4 separate regions of the Homo sapiens genome follow, and all the other regions are linked to region 1. The links come from fine-mapping of genetic effects on gene expression. A gene starts in region 1. Each other region holds a variant in brackets. All regions are shown on one strand. Distances are from middle to middle.

Evidence for each region. PIP is the estimated chance that this variant, and not a neighbour inherited with it, causes the effect.
Region 2: its variant is the best candidate, but not a certain one, in a credible set for the expression of EMID1 in whole blood (TOPMed, PIP 0.63).
Region 3: its variant is the best candidate, but not a certain one, in a credible set for the expression of EMID1 in stomach (GTEx, PIP 0.84).
Region 4: its variant is the best candidate, but not a certain one, in a credible set for the expression of EMID1 in spleen (GTEx, PIP 0.87).

The regions. Positions count from the first base shown.
Region 1 is chr22:29,203,164-29,208,163 of GRCh38, forward strand. It overlaps EMID1 (EMI domain containing 1), which reads left to right and starts at 2,733. Exons shown (of 15, transcript NM_133455.4): 1 at 2,733-2,976. The coding sequence starts at 2,876. It overlaps LOC101929638 (a long non-coding RNA gene), which reads right to left and starts at 2,669. Exons shown (of 5, transcript XR_938134.3): 1 at 2,308-2,669; 2 at 1,997-2,158. RefSeq lists silencers at 2,828-2,917, 2,928-3,087, 3,108-3,167.
Region 2 is chr22:29,177,857-29,183,652 of GRCh38, forward strand. LOC101929638 (a long non-coding RNA gene) reads right to left here. Exons shown (of 5, transcript XR_938134.3): 4 at 5,316-5,525; 5 at 2,407-2,807. Among named protein-coding and RNA genes, the nearest start is that of EMID1, 25 kb to the right of the region's middle. The variant T/G (reference allele first, on the strand shown) is at 3,265.
Region 3 is chr22:29,243,546-29,248,545 of GRCh38, forward strand. All of the region lies in intron 13 of EMID1 (EMI domain containing 1), which reads left to right. Among named protein-coding and RNA genes, the nearest start is that of RHBDD3, 22 kb to the right of the region's middle. The variant G/A (reference allele first, on the strand shown) is at 2,205.
Region 4 is chr22:29,234,065-29,239,860 of GRCh38, forward strand. It overlaps EMID1 (EMI domain containing 1), which reads left to right. Exons shown (of 15, transcript NM_133455.4): 11 at 73-135; 12 at 241-285. Among named protein-coding and RNA genes, the nearest start is that of RHBDD3, 31 kb to the right of the region's middle. RefSeq lists enhancers at 1-81, 82-582. The variant A/C (reference allele first, on the strand shown) is at 2,205.

The DNA of each region.
Region 1 (5,000 bases):
CAGAAAGCCGGCTGTCATCCAACAGGAAAGTGAGCCCTTAAACGGGGGCTTCAGCTGTGCCCCAGGGCCACTGAAGGGGAGACCTGACGTTTTCACACTTTCCCAGAAGCTCAGACTCTTGAGCCAGAGGGACCTTAAAAGTCCTATGTGGGAGGGTTGCTTGAAGCCAGGAGTTCGAGACCAGCCTGAGCAACAGAGCAAGACCCTGTGTCTACAAAAAATATTAAAAATGAGCCAGATGTGCTGTCATACACCTGTAGTCCTAGCTAATCAGGAGGCTGAGGCAGGAGAATCGCTTGAGCCCAGGAGGTTGAGGCTGCAGTGAGCGGAAATGGCACCACTGCACTCCAGCCTGGGTGACAGTGTGAGACCCTGTCTCAAAAAAAAAAAAAAAAAAAAAAAAAGAAGATCCCATGGCTTGTTTTTTCAGGCAAAGAAATGAAGCTCAGAGAGGGGAAGTGACTTGTCTTGGGTCACACAGCTCCCAGAGGTTGCTCTGGAATTGACACCCTGGCCTATGGGTCACATGGCTTGTGGGGTGTATCCATCAGGCCACACAGCCACAAGGTGATAAATAGTGATAAATAAATCTATATTTATTTATCCGGGTCTACAGTGATAAATAAATACCCTGGACCCGGGAATCCCAGCCTCAGTAAGGACAGGCCCCTCTCTGATGTGAAAATGTTGATAACAGCTTTTACCAGGAGAGTCTCTTGCTGGGGAAATTCTGCAGCGGCCTGAGTCTGCCACAAGTTTGATGGCATTGGTTAAGAAATGTGGATGCCATTAATCGCAGGAGCATCTCAGACATGTTGCAAACAGACCTAGTAGTGCCTCCTCATTCTGTGGCACCCATCTGACACCCTAGACACCTCTCAGTCCCTCCAAGGCATTATCCAGTGCTTCTCCTTCCTAAACAGCTGCATGTTTGAGCTTCCTAAACAGCTCAAAGCACCCCTGGGGTGATGGGTTTTTATCTGGGCCGCTTGATTGGGGTTTCAGACAGGCCTGGCATCCTCTTGGGGGCATGGCTCCTCAGGAGTGACGAATTATCCAGGGTGTTAAGTCACTGATCTAGCTGTGTCAAAAACAAGGGCTAACCAGAGAGGTACAAAGCTGCATTTCTTGGAGGTCAGAGAGATGGCACAGGAGATGTGCCAAAATTTCACGTGAAAAGGAGGGCAACAGCTCCCCAAGGGGGCAACATTGGCACCATGGTGATGTCGCTGGAGGGAGAGGGAGCCCTTGGGGGACTATGTGAAGTAGGGGAGAGTGGGTGACAGGCCATTACCATGATATCTCAATCCTTCCCACACTCCTGTAACGAATGTACAACTGTCCTCCCTGCAAAAGAAACACTGAGGCTGCGAGAGGGGCAAGACTTGCCTGAGCTAACTGGAGCAGAAGTAGCAGAGGCAGGGTTTGAACCCAGCTCTCACTACCTGTCCCTTGGGACAGGGCAACAGCTTTCTCTATGTGGACACACTGGTGATGGATCCCCCGTCCTGCCTGCCTGCCTGCCTATGGTGGCCTATGCTGCCTGCCCCTGGTGAGTCCAGGAGGGGCAATCCAGTGACTGGCAGATCCTTTCTGGGGAGTGTTTCTAGAAGGGACCGTGGGTCTGGACAAGCCATAACAGGAAGTAGCCAAGCTGGGCAAGGGCTTCCCCAGCCCAGGCCTAACTACTGCCCATCGATCCAGGCAGAAGGCGGGGTTAGAGACTGCCCTGGGAGATTGGGGGTCTGGGTCCCCTCTGATGAGAGCTCTGGTCTCTCCCTATAAACACACACTCCTATCACAGACACACACATAACACACATGCACATAAATCCACATCAAGCATGCACACACATCCATCATACACACATACGACACACACATGCACCCCTGCACACACACACTACGCTTACATATACCTTTGTGGGATGTAGAGCCATTCCTCCAGAAGCCCATCCATGTACCCCAGATGAAACCACCCAACACCAATTCTTACCTTGTTACATATGGTGAAATCAAGGCATAGACCGAAGTGCTGTGGTTAAGAGCTGTTACTCTCCGAAGTCAGGCGATCTGGGTACAAATCCTGGCTCTGCCAAACCCCTGCCACGGTGCTTTAGGTAAATGACAGCTCCTTTCTGTGGCTTAGTTTCTCCACCTGTAAAATGAGAATAAGAACAGACTCTGCACTTATGGGGTCAGCCCAGATCTCCTCCTAGGGAGACTGCGAGTGCCTGGGCCTCAGTTTTCTCTTCTGTAAAATGGGGATATTGTGCCCAGTTCGAGCAGAGTGGCTTGAAGAGTCACCTGAGATAGGATGTGAAGTGGCCGCGGTGAGGTGCCCAATACACGTGGCGCGCACTGCTCAGGAAGCTTTCCTTGGAGGGCTGGATCCCGCAAAGGTGTCGAAAAAGGATGAGTCCCGGATATCATTCGCTCAGGTGAGGTGGGTTCGGGTCCCGGCTGCGTCTGGGACCGTGGCCCGGGCCTCAGTTTCCCAGTCTACAGCCCGTGGGAGGACACCTCGGAGCTGGCACCCCGCCCCCAAAAGGGCCCCGCGGCGCAGGGCGTGGGGCTCAGGTGGACACCTGGCGGGCCTCCTGGCGGGGGCGCCCTGGCCGCCCGGGCCCCTCCGGGCTCCTTCCGGGTTGGCAGCGGCGGCGCAGGGGGCGGGGGGCAGCGCAGAGGGGCCGGGCGAGGCCGGGAGCGCGCGCCCCCGCCCCCGCCCGCCCGCCTCCTGCCCGCCCTCCGGCCGCGGAGCTGGAAACCGGGCTCCGCGCGTCCGGGGCGGCTGGCGGCGCGGGCAGGCAGGCGGGGAGGACAGGCTGGGGGCGGCGACCGCGAGGGGCCGCGCGCGGAGGGCGCCTGGTGCAGCATGGGCGGCCCGCGGGCTTGGGCGCTGCTCTGCCTCGGGCTCCTGCTCCCGGGAGGCGGCGCTGCGTGGAGCATCGGGGCAGCTCCGTTCTCCGGACGCAGGTAAGAGCTCCCGGCGCCTTTGCACCCCGCTGGCCGAGGGTCCCGGCGCGCACACGCCCCCACCTCCAGGAAGGGCTGGGATTGGAGGGCGATCCAGTCCCCAGCCCGGGTGAGGGCAGGGACACGGCCATCCCGCGGTCCGGCTGAGGCTCCCGCGAGTGCGGGGTCCCCTACTCCATGTGTCGGAGCTGGCTGCCTCCCCTACTCCCTCCCTTTCAACCCAGGAGCTCGAGAGGAGGGGGAAGGGGCGCAACGAGGGCGAAGCCCTGGCCCTTCTGTTCCCCTGTCCCTAGGGCCCCTCCCCCTGCACTTGGGAAAGGCCTATGACACCCCCTAGCCGACTCTTCTCGGACCCTCTCTCCCCTTTTCCCTGTTCCTGTTTTTTTGCTTTGTTTTGTTTTTTGTTTGTTTGTTTTGTACCCAGGCTATTTATCTCCCTCGGAGGAGGGACTGGGGTGGAGTCTCACAGCCCAGTGGGTCAGTGTCGGAGATACCCCAGGGACCTGGCATTTTGGACAGAGAAAAGAGGGAGCACAGTCTTCCTTCTGCTCTCCTAGCGGCGGGGAACCTCCTCCCTGCTGGCCTTTACGGAGGAGCTCCCAGAACCTGACATGGTGGGGCCCATTATTATATATAGTGTCCTCATCAATCCTTGAAGGACCGAATGAGGTAGGGAAAACTGTCCCCATTCAACGGTTAAGCAAACTGAGACCCTAGGGAATTGGCATCATCTTTTAGCCTCATGGGCTATTCACTGAAGAGCTAGGTTGCAAATCTGCCCTTCTATCCTTGATGACAGTGTTTGAACCTGTCCTGGCCTCTGTCCTGGCTGCAGCCCCAGCGAGGGTCCCCTCCTAAAGGCCAGCCGCCGTTGTCCAAGGCAGACAATGTGGAGTAGCCAGGCCTCTCCAGGCCTTTTCATCCCATTCAAAGGCCTGCGCGGCCCCCACCCCCTACGGCCTCAATTCTTTAATTCTTTTCAGAAATTCTCCTTTCCCAGTGGTCAGGGGCCAGCATGCCCCTGCTGGGCTAGCAAGAGCAGTTGACATGGGCAGGGCTGGAGGACGGAGGTGGTTGAAGCATCAGAGGCCAGAAGAGCAGTTGTCTGAGACAGGGGTGGACGTGTGGCAGATGTTACAGCCACCACCTATTGTGTGCAGACAACAGTTAGCCTGAGTCGGCTCCGTTACCTGCATTCATCAGCTCCAGAATCCTCCCAGCTGCTTGGAGGTATGCTCTTTATGATTCTGTTTCATAGAGGAGGAAGATGAGGCTCAGAGAGGGAACATGACCTGCCCAGAGCATGGAAGTGAGCCGCCAGGATCCCAGATGCTAAGAGGACAGAGACTATGAACTCAGAAATCCCACTGTTAGGCTCAGGATGATGGTGGCGACAGCTTAAGGCCCAGACCGCCCTGCAGCCAGTTCAAGGCAGGGCTTCCCAGCCTGGGCTCCTCACCTCCCAGGGTCTCCTGGGTGGGAACAGGATGATGGCTATAACCAGGTATCTGGTGGTCACTGGGGACTGTCACTCCATGTGTTGACAGAAGCCTATCACAGTAGCCTGAGCATCCCAAAAACCCTGTGGGCAACACTATTGCACCCATTGTACAGATACGGAGGCTGAGGCCTACAGAGGACAAGTGGCACCTCAGTCCAGACCAGTCGATTTCCAAATCCAGTGGCTTTTTCTCTCCAGCAGCCTTGCTGGAAGAGGGAAAGAGGTTGTCGGCTTGGGGGCACCAGGAAAGGTTTGCAGTCATGATTAGGAGTTAGGGGCTCCAGCCTTGGACAGAATGGAGACAGAATTCCTTGCTCTTACAGGCTTGATGTGTGACCTCAAGTGGGTCACTTCCTGGCCATGGGTCTCAGTTTTGCTCTCAGTTTCCTTCTTTCCTCGTGGGAAGGACCAGCACCGGGCCTCACCTGCAGTGGTTCCTGCTATCAATCATGTCACATGGGGGTAGGGACCTGGAGCTTGAGGAGTCTGTGGGCTACCAGAACCTCCACTTGTGGCCCCATCC
Region 2 (5,796 bases), 25 kb before region 1:
CCTCAGGACAATTTCCAGAGACTTTAAATGGTTGTTTTTTCATATAATATTTACCAGTTATAGTTATTTCTCTGGGCAGAGGGTAGGTGGAGCTCCTCACACCACTATACCAGAAGTTGTCTCTGAATATGTAATAGTCATTTGCTACATAATGACATTTCCGTCAATGATGGACCACATATACAATAGTGATCCCATAAGATTATAATTCTGGGGCAGGTGCAGTGGCTTATGCCTGTAATCCCAGCACTTTGGGAGGCCAGGGCAGGTGGGTAGCTTGAGCCCAGGAGTTCAAGACCAGCCTGGGCAACATGGCAAAACCCCATCTCTACAAAAAAATTTTTTAAAATTAGCCAGGCATAGTGGCTTGTGCTTGTGGTCCCAGCTACATGGGAGGCTGAGATGAGAGGATGGCTTGAGCCCAGGAGGCGGAGGTTGCAGTGAGCTGAGATCGTGCCACTGCACTCCAGCCTGGGCAACAGAGTAAGATCCTGTCTCAAAAAAAAAAAAATTATAATACTGTATTTTTACTGTACCTTTTCTACGTTTTGATGCACAAATACCACTGTGATACAGTTACCTATGGTATTCAGTACAGTCACATGCTGTACAGATTTGTAGCCTAGGGGAAATAGGCTACACCACATAGCCTAGGTGTGTAGTAGGCTATCTCAGCTAGGTTCGCGTGAGTGCACTCTGTCATGTTCACACAATGATGAAATCAAATCAAATCACATTTCTCAGAACATATCCCCATCGTTAAGTGACTCATGACTATTTATTAATAAATAATACAGTAGTCCCCCTTTATCTGGAGTTTCACTTCTTACGGTTTTGGCTACCCATAGTATAGTAAAAGAAAACAGAGAGAGACCACATTCATATAACTTTTATTACAGTATATTGTTATAATTGTTCTATTTTATTATTAGTTATTGTTAATATCTTACTGTGCCTAATTTATAAATTAGGCTTTATCATAGGTATGTCTGTACAGGAAAAAACATAGTGTATATAGGGTTTGGTACTATCTGAGGTTTCAGGCATTCACTAGGGGTCTTGGAACACATCCCCCATGGATAAGGGAAGACAACTGTACATCACAACCAGTGGGATTTCTCCTAGGACTGCAAAGTGGCTTTAACACTGGAAAATCAATCAGTGTAATTCACTGTATTAACAGACTAAACAATTAAAATGATCAGATCATTTCATTAAAGGCAGAAAAAACATTTGGCAAAATCCAAGATTCGTTCCTGATTGTTAAAAAAAAAATTAAGCAAGCCAGGAATAGAAGGGAATCTTCTTACCTAATAAAAGGCATCTACCAAACAAAACCCTATAATGAACATTAGGGTTCATTAATGTTTTTCCCCTAAGATCATGAACAAGACAGGTCTGTCTACTCTCACCACTTCTATTCAACATTGTATTGGAGATTCTAGCCCATATAATCAGACAAGAAAAGGAAATAAAAAAAATTCAGATTTGATATAAAGAAGAAAAGTTGCCTTTATTTGCAAAAAAAAAAATGTTCATCTAAGTTAAAAATCTGATGGAATTTGCAAAAAAGCTGCTGGAACTAATAAATGAGTATAATAAGGTTGAAAGATACAAGATCAACATAAAAAATATATTACTAGCAAAAAACACCTGGACATTGAAATTTTAAAAAATACTATTTACGGTAGCATAAAAATATGAAATAGACTAAACAGAACAAAAAAGTATGTTAGGCCTATACAATTAAAGCTACAAAACAAGCTGGGCGTGGTGGCTCATGCCTGTAATCCCAGCACTTTGGGAGGCTGAGGCGGGCGGATCACGAGGTCAAGAGATCGAGACCATCCTGGCCAAGATGGTGAAACCCCGTCTCCACTAAAAATACAAAAATTAGCCGGGCATGGTGGCGCCTGCCTGTAATCCCAGCTACTCAGGAGGCTGAGGCAGGAGAACCGCGTGAACCTGGGAGGCTGAGGCAGGAGAACCGCGTGAACCCGGGAGGCAGAGGTTATAGTGAGCCAAAATCGTGCCACTGCACTCCAGCCTGGGTGACAGGGCAAGACTCCGTCTCAAAAAAAAAAAAAAAAAGCTACAAAATGTTTCTGAGAAAAAGCTCTAAAGGTCTAAATAAATGGAGAGGTATACCATGTTCATGGGTTGAGAGACTCGATACTGTCAATATGTCAATTCTTCCCAAATTAATCTACAAACTCAACATAATTTCAGTCAAAGTCTCAGCAGGCTTTTTTGGTAGAAATTTACAAGCTGATTACAAAATGTATTGGAAATGCAAAAGCTTAGAATAGTCAAAACAACTTTGAAAAAGAGGAACAAAATTAAAGGACTTAAATGACCTAACTTTAAAACTTATTACAAAGGCACAGCAATGAAGACAGTGTGGCATTGGTGTACAAATAGACAAGTAGTTTAATAAAGCAGAACAAAGAGTCTAGAAACAGACTCACAGATATATGGTCAATTTTCAACAAAGGTGCAAACTGGACATCATCAAAATTAACCTCTCTCTGCTCTTTGAAAGACGCTGTTGGCTGGGCACAGTGGCTCACGACTATAATGCCAGCACTTTGGGAGACTGAGATGGGTAGATTGCTTGTGCCCAGCAGCTCGAGACCAGCCTGGGCAACATGGCATAACCCCATCTCTACAAAAAATTAGCTGGGCATGGTGGCACACGCCTGTGGTCCTGGGAGGCTGAGGTGGGAGGATAGCCTGAACCCGGGAGGTTGAGGCTGCAGTGAGCCATGATCATGTCACTGTACTCCAGCCTGGTGATGAGCGAGACCCTGTCTCAAAAAGAAAAAGAAAGACACTGTTAAGAGAATAAAAAGACAAGTCACAGATTGAAAGAAGATATTCGTAAATCACATATCTGATTTAAAAAAGACTCATATCCAGAATATATAAAGAACTCTCAACGCTCAATAATACGAAAACAAAGAATTTTTAAGAGTGCCCATGGGGAACAAATAATTGAAACAGACACTTGATCAAAAAAACACGTACGGATGACAAATAAGCAGGTGAAAAGATGCTCCATAGCATCAATCATTAGGGAAATGCCAATTAAAATCACAGCGAGACTACTACGCATCTATTAGAATGGCTTAAATTTGAATAACTGGCAATACCAAGGGTTGGTGACGTTGTGGAGCAACTGGAGCTTTTAGGTACTGTTTTACAATCACTTTGAAAAACAGCTTGGGCTGTGCGCAGTGGTGCATGCCTGTAATCCCAGCACTT[T/G]GGGAAGCTGAGGCAGGTGGATCACACGAAGTCAGGAGTTCGAGACCAGCCTGACCAACATGGCCAAACCCCATCTCTACTAAAAATACAAAAATTAGCCAGGTGTGGTGTTGCATGCCTATAATTCCAGTTACTCAGGAGGCTGAGACAGGAGAATTGTTTGAACCCAGGAGGCAGAGGTTGCAGTGAGCCGAGATTGTAACATTGCACTTTAGCCTGGGCGACAGGGCGAGACTCCATCTCAAAAAAAAAAGAAGGAAAAGAAAAACAGCTTGGCAGTTTCTCTCATACTTCACATACAATTACCTTGAGACCCAGCAGGTCCACTCCTAGGTATCTAACCAAGATAAATGAACACATATGGCAATACAAAAATGTGTATGCAAATGTTCATAGCAGCATTATTTATAATAGCCCCAAACTGGTAACCAACTTAATGTCCATCAACAGGTGAGTGGACAAACAAGTTGTGAAACATACCTAGCAGGAAAAAGAAATGAACTAGTAATATGCACAATGACATGGGTGAAGCTTAAATTATTATGTTGCATAAAAGAAGCCAGACCAAAAAAGAGTACATACAGTATGATTTCATTTGTATAAAATTCTATAGGCCAGGTGAGGCGGCTCACGCCTGTAATCCCAGCACTTTGGGAGGTCAAGACAGGAGGATTGCTTGAGTCCAGGAGTTCGAGACCAGCCTGGGAAGCATAGGGAGACCCCATCTCTACAAAAAATAAAAAATAAAAATTAGCCAAGTGTGGCAGTGTGCATCTGTCTTCCCAGCTACTTTGGGAGGCTGGGGTGGGAGGATCGCTTGAGCCTGAGAGTTCAAGGCTGCAGTGAGCTATGATCATGCCACTACACTCCAGCCTGGGTAACAGAGTGAGACCCTGTCTCTTAAAAAGAAGAAAAATCCTAGAAAATGCAAAATAATCTATAGTGACAGAAAGCAGATCAGTGTTTGCCTGGGAATCAGGAGAGAGGTGGGTGACCAAGGGGAATGAGAAAACTTTTGGGGGTGGTGGATAGATTCACTGTCTTGATTGTGGAGATGATTTCCCAGGTGAAGACATGTCAAACTGGTGAAATTTTACACTCTGTAGTTTATTGTAACTACAGGCCAGGCACGGTGGCTCACACCTGTAATCCCAGCACTTTGGGAGGCAGGGGTGGGTGGACTGCTGAGCCCAGGAGTTCGAGACCAGCCTGGGCAACATGGGGAAACCCCATCTCTACTAAAAATACAAACAACAACAACAACAACAACAAACTAGCCAGGCACGGTGACACATGCCTGTGGTCCAAAGGATCACTTGAGCCTGGGAGGTCGAGACTGCAGTGAGCCATGATTGCACCATTGCACTTCAGCCTGGGTGGCAGAGTGAGACGGGGAGGGGAGGGGAGCCTTCTCTCCTGCCTTAAGAGGGGAGTCAGGATGCAAAGCCAGGTCATCTGACCCAGAGCCTATGTCCTTACCTGGCTGTCTCCTGCCTCCCAGTCTGCACCCAAGATGATCCCTTTGGGGCCCTAAATGGTGCTCAGATTCTCCTGGGAATATGTACAGGGCCTGGTGTATATGATCCTACATGAGGCTTTTTGTTTCTTTTGTTTTTGAGACAGGGTCTCACTCTGTTGCCCAGGCTGGGTGCAGTGGTGCAATTATAGCTCACTGCAGCCTCAAACTCCTGGGCTTAGGCAATCCTCCCACCTCACCCTCCTGAGTAGTTGTGACTATAAGCGCATACTAACACGTCACACTAATTAAAAAAAAAAATTGCAGAGATAGAATCTCGCTATGTTGCCCAGGCCAGTCTCAAACTCCTGGTCTCAAGCAATCCTCCCACCTTGGTTTCCCAAAGTGCTGGGATTACAGGCACACACCACCACACCTGGCCCCATATGAAGTATTTGTAAGACTTCACCTTCATCTGACTATGGTAGTGATAGTGACAATGGTGATGATGATTTTTCTTTTCTTGTTCCATGAGCCTCAATCACCGTCAGCTCCCTGAGAACAGCTCCTAGGTCCTATAATGGCATATTCCTACCTCAGGGCCTTTGTAGAGGTTGTTTCTTCACCCAGGGACACCTGGATCATCATACTTCATCAATTAATTGCTCTCATCCTTCAGCTTTCATCTTACAAGATTTTCTTTTCTTATGCTTGTAATCTCAGGGTTTTGAAAGGCCGAGACAGGAAGTTTGCTTGAGGCTAGGAGTTTGAGACCAGCCTGGGGCAACACGGCAAGCTCTTGTCCCTATTAAAAAAAAAAAAAATTAGCTGGGCATGGTGGTACACTCCTGTAATCCCAGTTACACAGGAGGCTGAGGCAGGGGGATCACTTAAACCCAGGAGTTCCAAGCTGCAGTGAGCTGTGATCATGCCACTGCACTGCAGCCTGAACAACAGAGTGAGAACTTGTCTCAAAATAATAATACTAATAAAAAGGCCAGGCGCGGTGGCTCACACCTGTAATCCCAGCACTTTGGGAGGCCAAGGCAGGCCAATCATGAGGTCAAGAGATTGAG
Region 3 (5,000 bases), 40 kb after region 1:
AGAGTATTCCCTCCCCAGGAGGCCCTGGGAGTGGGAGCATCCCATCCACATCCCCACTACAGCCTGGTCTCCCAGGCAGGAGCCTTGGCAATTATCAGCCCCAACTCCTTCCCCCATCTTGTTGCTCCCAACCGGGCAGGGCCAGCCCTATCAGCAGACCCCATGCCTTCTGTCTCAGTCTCTGTCCCTGTCTCCACCTTCCCTCTGTGGCCTTTCCAGGCCAGGGTGGCTCTGCCTTTTCCTCCTGGGTGGTTTGGGCTGACCCAGGCCAGACTGCATCCCCTGCCTCCATAGCCCCCTCCCAGCCAAGGCTTAGCTTGCTCCCTTGTCTGCAGAACAAAGGGAAGAATGAAGACAATATCTACACAGGAGAATGGGATAGAGGACCTAGGAAAGGGGCCTAGAAATGATGAGGTACATAGGAGCCACGTGGTAAAAAGGACAGGGAACTAGATACCACCATACACATCGGAAATTCATGAAGCCTGTGAAGAGACGCCTCGAAACTGCTATGTACACGTTTGATGTGGTTAATGAGGCCAGGTGACCTAGACTCCTCTATACTTAAAGGACCTATAGTTTACACAAGGTCCTAGACACCATCACATACATAGGAGACCCATGATGGATGAGAAGGGAAGCCTAGAAACTCTCACATATACAGGAGACAGAGTAAATGAGAAGGGGACAAGAAGGGGGAACTAGAAACCACACACCGCAAAATCTCATGATTAATGTGGGGTCCTAGAAACCTTCACAATCGTCCGGGATGCCGTGGCTCCTACCTGTAATCCCAGCACTCTTGGAGGCCGAGGCGGGTAGATAACTTGAGGTCAGGAGTTTGAGACCAGCCTGGCCAACATGGCAAAACCCCCATCTCTAAAATACAAAAAAATACAAAAATACAAAATTAGCCTTAAAGGTTTGGGCTAAAAATACAAAAATTAGCTGGACATGGTGGTACGCACCTGTAGTCCTAGCTATTCAGGAGGCTGAGGCAGGGGAATCGCTTGAACCCAGGAGGCAGAGGTTGCAGTGAGCAGAGATCGCGCCACTGCACTCCAGCCTGGGCGACGGAACGAGACTCTGTCTCAAAAAAAAAAAAAGAAAAGAAAAGAAAATAGAAACCTTCACAATCATTGAAAATCATTGCAGGGGAGGGATTTTCGGGTTAGGACCTAGAAATCTACTCACCCAAGAGACGTGGGGGAAAGACGAGGACCCTAAAACATACCATACCCAAAAGCCCCACGACACAGGGATCTGGAAACCATCACTGACAGGGGAGACATCTGGAAAATGGACAGAGTGGAGGCAGACACTCCTTCAGGAGAGAGAGACAACTAGGAAGCTCTTTTTGGCGGTGGGGGGGATTGTGACTCCCCCTCCACATGCAGTCTGGCTGGGACACCCTACTTCCTGGCAGTCACAAGTTAGTGAGGATGTGGGTGGCACCCAGTGCCTGCCTTGCCCTCTTAGTTCTTGATTGTGGGGTCAGTGATGGATACAGCCGTGGGAGCCCCCTACCCTGCACGAGTCTTCCCCTGTGTCTGCCCATGACTTCTGGTGCCCTGCTACCTCTCCAGTTAGCCTCTCCTGGCCCCTGCTGTCCTGAATCTCCTCCTACCCCATACCCATCCTCCGTAGCTCCAGAGTCTCTTAATACTGCCAGTATGGACATGAGCTGAGCTGGGATCAGATAGACCCATGCAAGCCTGGCTCTCTGCCTCCCCTAGGCTAATTACTGGCCTCTCCCAGAGGCCCTTGGTCTGGGAACACATTTACCACCCAGTCCAGGAGGGGTGGGAGAGATTGGGCAGTCCTGTCCCTTCATGAGAATCCCCGGCAGGATGCCCTGGCCACCCTAGACCAGTCCTTGAACCCAGAACCACCTGTGGGCTCCCCGCAAGAGGTAGCAGGGCCCCTGCCCACCCACCTTCCTGCCCCTCTTCTACCTGCACTTCTGCCCCTGCTTGCTGCTTGCCTGGGAGGGGACCCACTGGGCTGGGGGCTGCATGAAGCTTTGGGGGCTGGGGGAACAGCTCTGTTGGGGACAGGTGGGAATGAGGTTCAGTGCTGGCAAGGTCCCCGAGGGCTCCTATGTACACTTCACCAACCAACTCCCTTAGTGCAGCTTGCAGATGCGTTCTGGCTGTGGCCCAGCAGTGACACCTGGTGGTCATGATAGTGCACTGCAGGAACTG[G/A]AGTGACTGTGCTGGGCCTGCCCACCTGGATCAAAGCTCTCACCCCTTATTCAGACAGGGAAACTGAGGCCCGACTCGGCAGAGAGAATCCTTGGCAGAGCGGGAACTGGAGCCCTGACTTTTAAGTTCCTAGGGCCAGAGAACCAGCTACCATTCCCCAAGCATCTCCTCCATAGGCACCAGACCTGGAGCTGGGCACTGTTTACACAGATGCAATTCAGACACAGTCCCCACCCTCAGGGTGGTCACAGTGAGGTGAGGGAAAAAAGACCTATAATCAGCAGCTACAGGACTGTCAACTTTATAAACACTTTACACTTTAGCATCCTCCCGGAGGAGCCAGGTGAAGCCTGAAAGGTGCATTAACCAGGCACGGAGTGTCCAGGCAGAGGCGAGGGTACAACAGGTGCAAAGGCCCTGTGGCAAGAGGGAGCCTCGGATATTTGAGGAGCTGCAAATACTTGGAGTGGCACTGTGACAGGTAGAGAGTGGAACAGAGGCCAAAGAGGCCTTCAGGGTGTAGGAGGCCACGTTCAGGAATTTGGACTTTGTTCTAGGGCAGTGGGGAGGCATTGAAGGCTCTAGAAGCAGCAGAGTGATGCGGTCAGGTTTTTTTTATTTGCAAAGAATCCCTCTGATTGCCATGGCGAATGGATGGGAGAAGCAGAAAGACAGTAGGTCGGGGGCTGTCGTGGTCATCCTGGTGAGAGACTGAGCCGGGCAGTGGGTGGGAGCCAGTGAGGACAGACAGCCGTCGATGGAGCAAAAAGACACTTGTGTGCTGGTCTGGCTGCAAAAGGGAGTGAGGAGTCAAGGGAGACTTAAAATAGCAAAAGAGAACCAGGAGAAGCAAGCAGGCTGAGTTTTGTCTGTGGACCAACGGGAGGAGTCTGTGTTACAGCCAAGTAGGGTTGTCCAGCAGGCCCAGACACTTAGATCCGGAGTGCAGAGGGCAGGCCAGGCTGAAGGAGACTGGGTTGTCATCAGTGCAAACATCAGGCCACCTGGTCTGAGGGAGTTCCAAACAGTGGATTTTAAAAACACTTTTCCCCATATTTTTCTTTTTAATTTTATGTTTTAAAAAATACAGACAAGAACTCACAATGTGTCCCAGGCTGGTCTCAAATTCCTGGCCTCAAGTGATCCTCCTACCTCAGCCTCCCAAGGTGTTGGGATTACAAGTGTGAGCCACTGCACCTGGCCTCCCCAATATTTTTGTTTATTTTTATTTTGTTTTTTTCCTTTTTTATTGAGACAGAGTCTCTATCGCCCAGGCTGGAGTGCAACAGCTCAATCACAGCTCACTGCAACCTCTGCCTCCTGGGTTCAAGCAATTCTCGTGCCTCAGCCACCTAAGTAGCTGGGACTCTGTAGCCATGCCTGGCTAATTTTTGTATTTTTAGTAGAGATGGGTTTGCGCCATGTTGGCCAGGCTGGTCTTGAACTCCAGGCCTCACGTGATCCACCCGCCTCAGCCTCCCAAAGTGCTAGGATTACAGGTGTGAACCACTGCACCCAGCTATTTTGCATTTTGATATACAGAAAAGTTGGTACAATGAATGTCATTCTGCCCTTCCTGTAGATGGACCAATTATTGGTACAGCCATGTGTCACTTAATGATGGGGATATGTCCTGGAAAATATGCCATTAGGTGATTTTGTTGTGGCATGAGCATCATACAGTGTACATACACAAACCTAGATGGGATAGCCTACAACACACCTCAGCTGTATGGTGTAGCCAATTGCTCCCAGGCTACAAACCTAAACAGCACGTTACTACGCTAAATATTGCAGGCAACTGCAACACAGTCGTAAGTATTTGTGTATCTAAACATAGAAAAGGTACAGCAAAAATACACCATAAAAGATTTTTGGAGCTTTTTTGTTTGTTTGTTTAGGACAAAATCTTGCTCTGTCGCCCAGGGTGGAGTGCAGTGGTGTGATTTCGGCTCACTGCAACCTCCATCTCCAGGTTCAAGCGATTCTCTTGCCTCAGCCTCCTGGGTAGCTGGGATTACAAGCATGAGCCACCACGCCCAGCTAATTTTTTGTATTTTTAGTAGAGACGGGGTTTCACCATGTTGGCCAGGCTGGTCTCAAACTCCTGACCTCAAGTGATCCGCCCACCTCAGCCTCCCAAAGTGCTGGAATTACAGGCGTGAGCCACCGCGCTGGTGAAATTAATTTTTTTTTTACTTTTTTTTTTTTTTGAGACAGAGTCTTGCTATGTCTCAAGAAAAGTACAGTGGAGTACAGTGGCTTGATCTCGGCTCACTGCAACCTCCGCCTCCTGGGTTCAAGCGATTCTCATTGCCTCAGCCTCCCAAGTAGCTGGGACTACAGGTGAACGCCACGATGCCCAGCTAATTTTTTTGTATTTTTAGTAGAGATGGGGTTTCACCATGTTGGCTGGCCAGGCTGGTCTCAAACTCCTGACTTCAAGTGATCCGCCTGCTTCGGTCTCCCAAAGTGCTAGGATTCCAGGTGTGAGACACTGTGCCTGGCCCTTTTTTTTTTTTTTTTTTTTTCACTTTTTAAATGTTTTTGCTAAAAACTAAGACACAAACACATACATTAGCCTAGGCCTACACAGGGTCAGGATCATCAGTATCACTGTCTCCATGTCCACCTCTTGTCCCACTGGAAGTTCTGGGCAGTAACATGCATAGAGCTGTCATCTCCTATGATAACAATGCCTTCTTCTGGAATACCTCCTGAAGAACCTGCCTGAGGCTGTTTTACAGCTTAACTGTTTTTTAAATAAGTAGAAGGAGTACACTCTAAAATAACAAT
Region 4 (5,796 bases), 31 kb after region 1:
ACCTCTGTTCCCAAGCCCCTGCCCACTCCATCCTGCCCCAACACAAGGCTGAGGCCCTGTCTTGTTGCTCAGGGACCCCCAGGCCCCACTGGACCCAAAGGAATCTCTGGCCACCCAGGAGAGAAGGGCGAGAGAGTGAGTACCCAGGTGGCCCCAGGTGGGGGAATTCTGGGGAGTCCTGAGGGCCCCAGGTCAGAGTCCTCAACAGCTGACGCCATTCGTCTCCTCCCTCTTACACAGGGACTGCGTGGGGAGCCTGGCCCCCAAGGCTCTGCTGGGCAGCGGGTAAGTGTTGCTGTCTGTCCCGCATTCATCCCTGCAGGATCCCTTAGTCCCAGATTCCTCCTGTGACTCCATCCCCTGCAACCAGAGCTTCTAACCCTCCCTGTCTTGTCATTTATTTTCAGATGCTCCCTGTCTCTGAGACTCATTGTCCTCTTTGGATTAGGCTGCCTCTGTCTCTCTCACTCTGGCTCTCTGTTTCTCTGTATCTCTCTCTTTCCCTCTGTACGTCTGTCTCTTTGACTCTGTATTTCATTTACACTCTATCTCTCCAATTCTGATTGTAGATCTGTTCATTTCTCTCTTTAATTTGGTGAATTTTGCTTTACGTATTTTGAGTCTTTGTTATTAGGTGCATTCACATTTAGTATTTTAATGTCTCCTTGGTCATTTTATCTTTATGAAATTAATATCTTTATCTCTGATAATACTTGCCTTGAATCGACTTTGTGTGCTTTTAATAGCACACCAGCTTTCTTATGCTTGCTATTTGCATGTTATATCTTTTTTTATCCTTTTTTTTTTCAACCTGTAACTTTATATTTAAAGTGCATCATGGCTGGGTGTGGTGGCTCACACCTGTAATCCCAGCACTGTGGGAGGCCGAGGAAGGTGGATCGTTTGAGCTCAGGAGTTCAAGACCAGCTTGGGCAACATGACAAAACTCTGTCTTTATATAAAAATATGTATATAAATTTTATTAAATGTAAGAAAGTGTGGACCGGGCACGGTGGCTTACGCCTGTAATCCTAGCACTTTGGGGGGCTGAGACGGGTGGATCACCTGAGGTCAGAAGTTCAAGACCAGCCTGGTCAACATGGTGAAACCCCGTCTCTACTAAATATACAAAAATTAGCCAGGCATGGTGGTAGGCACCTGTAATCCCAGCTACTCGGGAGGCTGAGGCAGAAGAATTGCTTGAACCCAGGAGGCAGAGGTTGCAGTGAGCTGAGATCACACCATTGTGCTCCAGCCTGGGCAATAAGAGTGAGACTTCATCTCAAAAAAAAAAAAAAAAAAAAGTGCATCATATGACTTGGGTCTTGCTGTTTAAAAACAGTTTGACTGTTTAGTTAATTTATATTTAATGATATGTATAATTGATTAATATGGTTCTGTTTAGCCATCTTGCTGTTTATGTTCTATTTATTCCTTCTGTTTTGTGTTTCTTTTTTCCCTTTTCTTTTCTTGTCTTCTTTTGGATTGAGTACTTTTTATGATTTCTTTTTTCTTTTTTAGAGACAGGGTTTCCCTATGTGCCTAGGCTGAACTCAAACTCCTGGGCACATAGTGAATGAAGTGTCTTAAGTGATCTTCTTGCCTCAGCCTCCCAAGTATCTGGGACTACAGGTGTGCACCATTGTGCCTGACTTAAAATCTTCTCTTTCTAAAATTAATTTTCTTTCTAGAATTAAAGCTTTCTAGAATTTAAGCTTTTTTTTTTTTTTTTTTTTTTTTTTTGATACAGGGTCTTTCTCTGTCACCCAGGTTGGAGTGCAGTGGTGCAATCATAGCTCACTGTAGCCCCAACCTCCCTGGCTCAGGCAATCCTCACACCTCAGCCTCCTGAGTAGCTGGGACCACAGGCATGTACCACCATGCCCAGTTAACTTCTATTCCTTTACATTTAATCTGTTTTGTGGTTATATTTAAAGTCAGTTTCTTATAGAAAACCTACGGTTAGGTCTTATTTTTTGGTCCATTCTAACAATCCTCATCTTTTATTTGCTGCATTTAGGCCATTGACATTTAAAGTGATTATTGAGGCCCAGCATAGTGGCCCACACCTGTAATTCCAGCACTTCAGGAGGCCAAGGCAGGAGGATCACTTGAAATCAGGAGTTTGAGACTAGAGTGGGCAACAAAATGAGACCCTTTTTCTATAAAACAAATTTAAAAATTGGCTGGACGTGGTAGTGTGC[A/C]CCTGTAGATTCAGCTACCTGAGAGGCTGAGCTGGGAGGATTGCTTGAGCCCAGGAGTTTAAGGTGACAGTTATAATTGCTTTACTGCATTCCAGCCTGAGTGACAGAACCAGACCTTGCCTCTAAAACATAACTAAATAGTCTGTGCACGGTGGCTCACACCTGTAATCCTGGCACTTTGGGAGGTGGAGGCAGGGGGATCACCTGAGGTCAGGAGTTTGAGACCAGCCTGGCCAACATGGTGAAACCCCGTCTCTACTAAAAACACAAAAATTAGCCAGGTATGGTGGCGCACTCCTGTAATCCCAGCTACTCAGGAGGCTGAGGCAGGAGAATTGCTTGAACCTGGGAGGCGGAGGTTGCAGTGGGCCAAGATTGTGCCACTGCACTCCAGCCTGGGCGACAGAGTGAGACTCCATCTCAAAAAAATAAGTCAATCAGTAAAATAAAAAATAACTAAATAAATGAAGTGTTATTTATATAGTTGGGTTAACAGCTACCATATTACTATTTTCTTTCTTTTTTTTCTTTTTTTTTTTATTTTTTGAGGCAGAGTCTTGCTCTGTCGCCCAGGCTGGAGTCTAGTGGCTGGATCTCGGCTCACTACAAGCTCCGCCTCCCGGGATCAAGCAATTCTCCTGCCTCAGCCTCCCAAGTAGCTGGGACTACAGGCGCCCACCACCATACCTGGCTAATTTTTGTATTTTTAGTAGAGATGGGGTTTCACCATCTTGGCCAGACTGGTCTTGAACTTCTAACTTTGTGATCTACCGGCCTTGGCCTCCCAAAGTGCTGGAATTACGGGTGTGAGCCACCTCGCCCAGCTACTATTTTCTATTTGTTTTCCTTGTTCTTTGTTCCTATTTTTGTCTGCCAGACTTTTTCTGCCTTTTTTTGGCTTTATTTATTTATTTACTTACTTATTTTCTTTTGAGAGAGAGTCTTGCTCTGTCACCCAGGCTGTAGTGCAGTGGTGTGATCTCTGCTACTGCAACCTCTGCCTCTTGGGTTCAAGCAATTCTCTGCCTCAGCCTCCTGAATAGCTGGGACTACAGGCACCTGCCACCCTGCCTGGCTAATTTTTATATTTTTAGTAGAGACAGGGTTTCACCATGTTGGCCAGACTGGTCTCAAACTCCTGACCTCAGGTGATCCACCCACCTCAGCCTCCCAGAGTGCTGGGGTTACAGGTGTGAGCCACCATGCCCGGCCATGCTCCTCCTTTCTTTATGTAAAATCTGAGTTTCTGGCCAGGCACGGTGGCTCACGCCTATAATCCCAGCACTTTGGGAGGCCGAGGTGGGCAGATCATGAGGTCAGGAGATGGAGACCATCCTGGTGAACACGGTGAAACCCCGTCTCTACTAAAAATACAAAAAAAATGTAGCTGGGCGTGCTGGCAGGTGCCTGTAGTCCCAGCTACTTGGGAGGCTGAGGCAGGAGAATGGCATGAACCTGGGGGATGGAGCTTGCAGTGAGTGGAGATCGCGCCACTGCACTGCAGCCTGGGCAACAGAGCGAGACTCCGTTTCAAAAAAAACAAACAAAAAAAATCTGAGTTTCTGACACATAATTTTTGTCCTCTCTGAAGAACTACCTTTATTTTTTCCCAGTTGGCTTTATTTGTGATTCTAGAATCGGGCAACACTTCATTCCATAAAATAAAATAAGTGCTCCGCTGAAGAACTTCTTTTAATGTTTCCTACAAGGCAGATCTACTGACAAAAATTCCCTCACTGTTTGTTTGTCTGAAAGTCTTCATTTCCCTTTCATGCATGAAGGATAATTTTTCAGGGTAAAGAATTCTAGGTTGATGTGTTTTTTTCCTCTCAATACTTGGTATATTACTCTCCACTCTCTTGCTTGCATGGTTTCTGCAGAGTTGGTTGTAATTATTATTGTTGCTCCTCTGCAGGAAAGATATTTTTTCCCTCTGTTTTCTTTTCAGTATTTTTTTATCTTTGATTCTCTGAAGTTTTTCTAAAAATTATTATTATTATTATTATTATTATTATTATTATTATTATTATTATTAGAGATAAGGTCATACTCTGTCACCTCAGAAGCCTTGAGGCTTCTGGGCTCAAGGGATCCTCCCGCCTCCACCTCTCGAGTAGCTGGGACTACTGTCATGTGCCACACCTGGCTAATTTTTTTTTCTGTTTTGAGATGAAATCTCACTCTTGTCCCCAAGGCTGGAGTGCAATGGTGTGATCTTGGCTCACTGCAACCTCCGCTTCCTGGGTTCAAGCGATTCTCCTGCCTCAGCCTCCCAAATAGCTGGGATTACAGGCACCTGCCATCACGCCCGGCTAATTTTTTGTATTTTTAGTAGAGACAGGGTTTCACCATGTTGGCCAGGCTGGTCTCAAACTTCTGACCTCAGGTGATCCGCCCGCCTCGGCCTCCCAAAGTGGTGGGATTACAGGCGTGAGCCACCGTGCCCGGCCATTTTTTTTTTTTTTTTTTTTAATTTTAGAAGCAAGATCTCACTATGTTGCCCAGGCTGGTCTTTCTGACCTCTAGTGATCCTCTTGCCTTGGCCTCCCAAAGTGCTGGGATTACAGGTGTGAGCCACTGCACCCAGCCTGATTTTCTGAAATTTGGATATGATATGCCTACTTGTCATTTCTTGGCATTTATCCTATATGGTATTCCCTTATCTTCCTAGATCTGTGGTTTGGTGTCTGACATTTTTGGGGGGAAAATTCTGTCATTATTACTTCAAATATTGCTTGTGTTTCTTTCTCTTTTTTCCTTCTGGTATTCTATTATGCATATTTACATCTTTTGTAATTGTCCCACAATTCTTGGATATTCTGTTCTATTCTTTCAGCCTTTTTTCTCTTTGCATTTCAGTTTTGAAAGTTTCCATTGTCATATCATCAGGCTTAGAGATTCTTTCCTCAGCCATGTCCAGTCCACGAATAAGCCCATCAATGGCATTCTTTATTTCTGTTACAGTGCTTTTTATATCTACCACTTATTTTTAATTATTTCTTAGAATATCTTTTTTTTCTTTTAAAAAAAATTTTTTTTTAATGTAGAGGCAGGGTTTTACCATGTTACCCAGGCTGGTCTCAAACTCCTGAGTTTAAGCAGTCTACCCACCTCAGCCTCCCAAAGTGTTGGGATTACAGGCATGAGCCACCACGCCCAGGCCTTTCTTAGAATTTCCATCTCTCTGCTTATAATCCATCTCTTCTTGCATGTTGTCTACTTTTTCCATTAATTCCCTTAGCATGTTAATTGTAGATTTTTAAAATTCCTGGCCTGATAATCTGAACATTTCTGCCATAACTGATGCAGGTTCTGATGTTTGTTGAATCTCTTCAAACTGTGTTTTTGCCTTTTAGTATGCCTTGTAATTTTTCACTGGAAGGTAGACATAATGTACTGTGCAAAAGAACTGCAGTAGATAGGCCTTTAGTAATGTAGTGAGAAGGTATTGGGGAAGGGAAGTGTTCTGGAGTCCTATGATTAGATCTCAGTCTTTTTTTTTTTTTTGAGACAGAGTCTCACTCTGTCTCCCAGGCACTGGAGTGCAGTGGCTCGATCTTGGCTCACTGCAACCTCCACCTCCTGTGTTCAA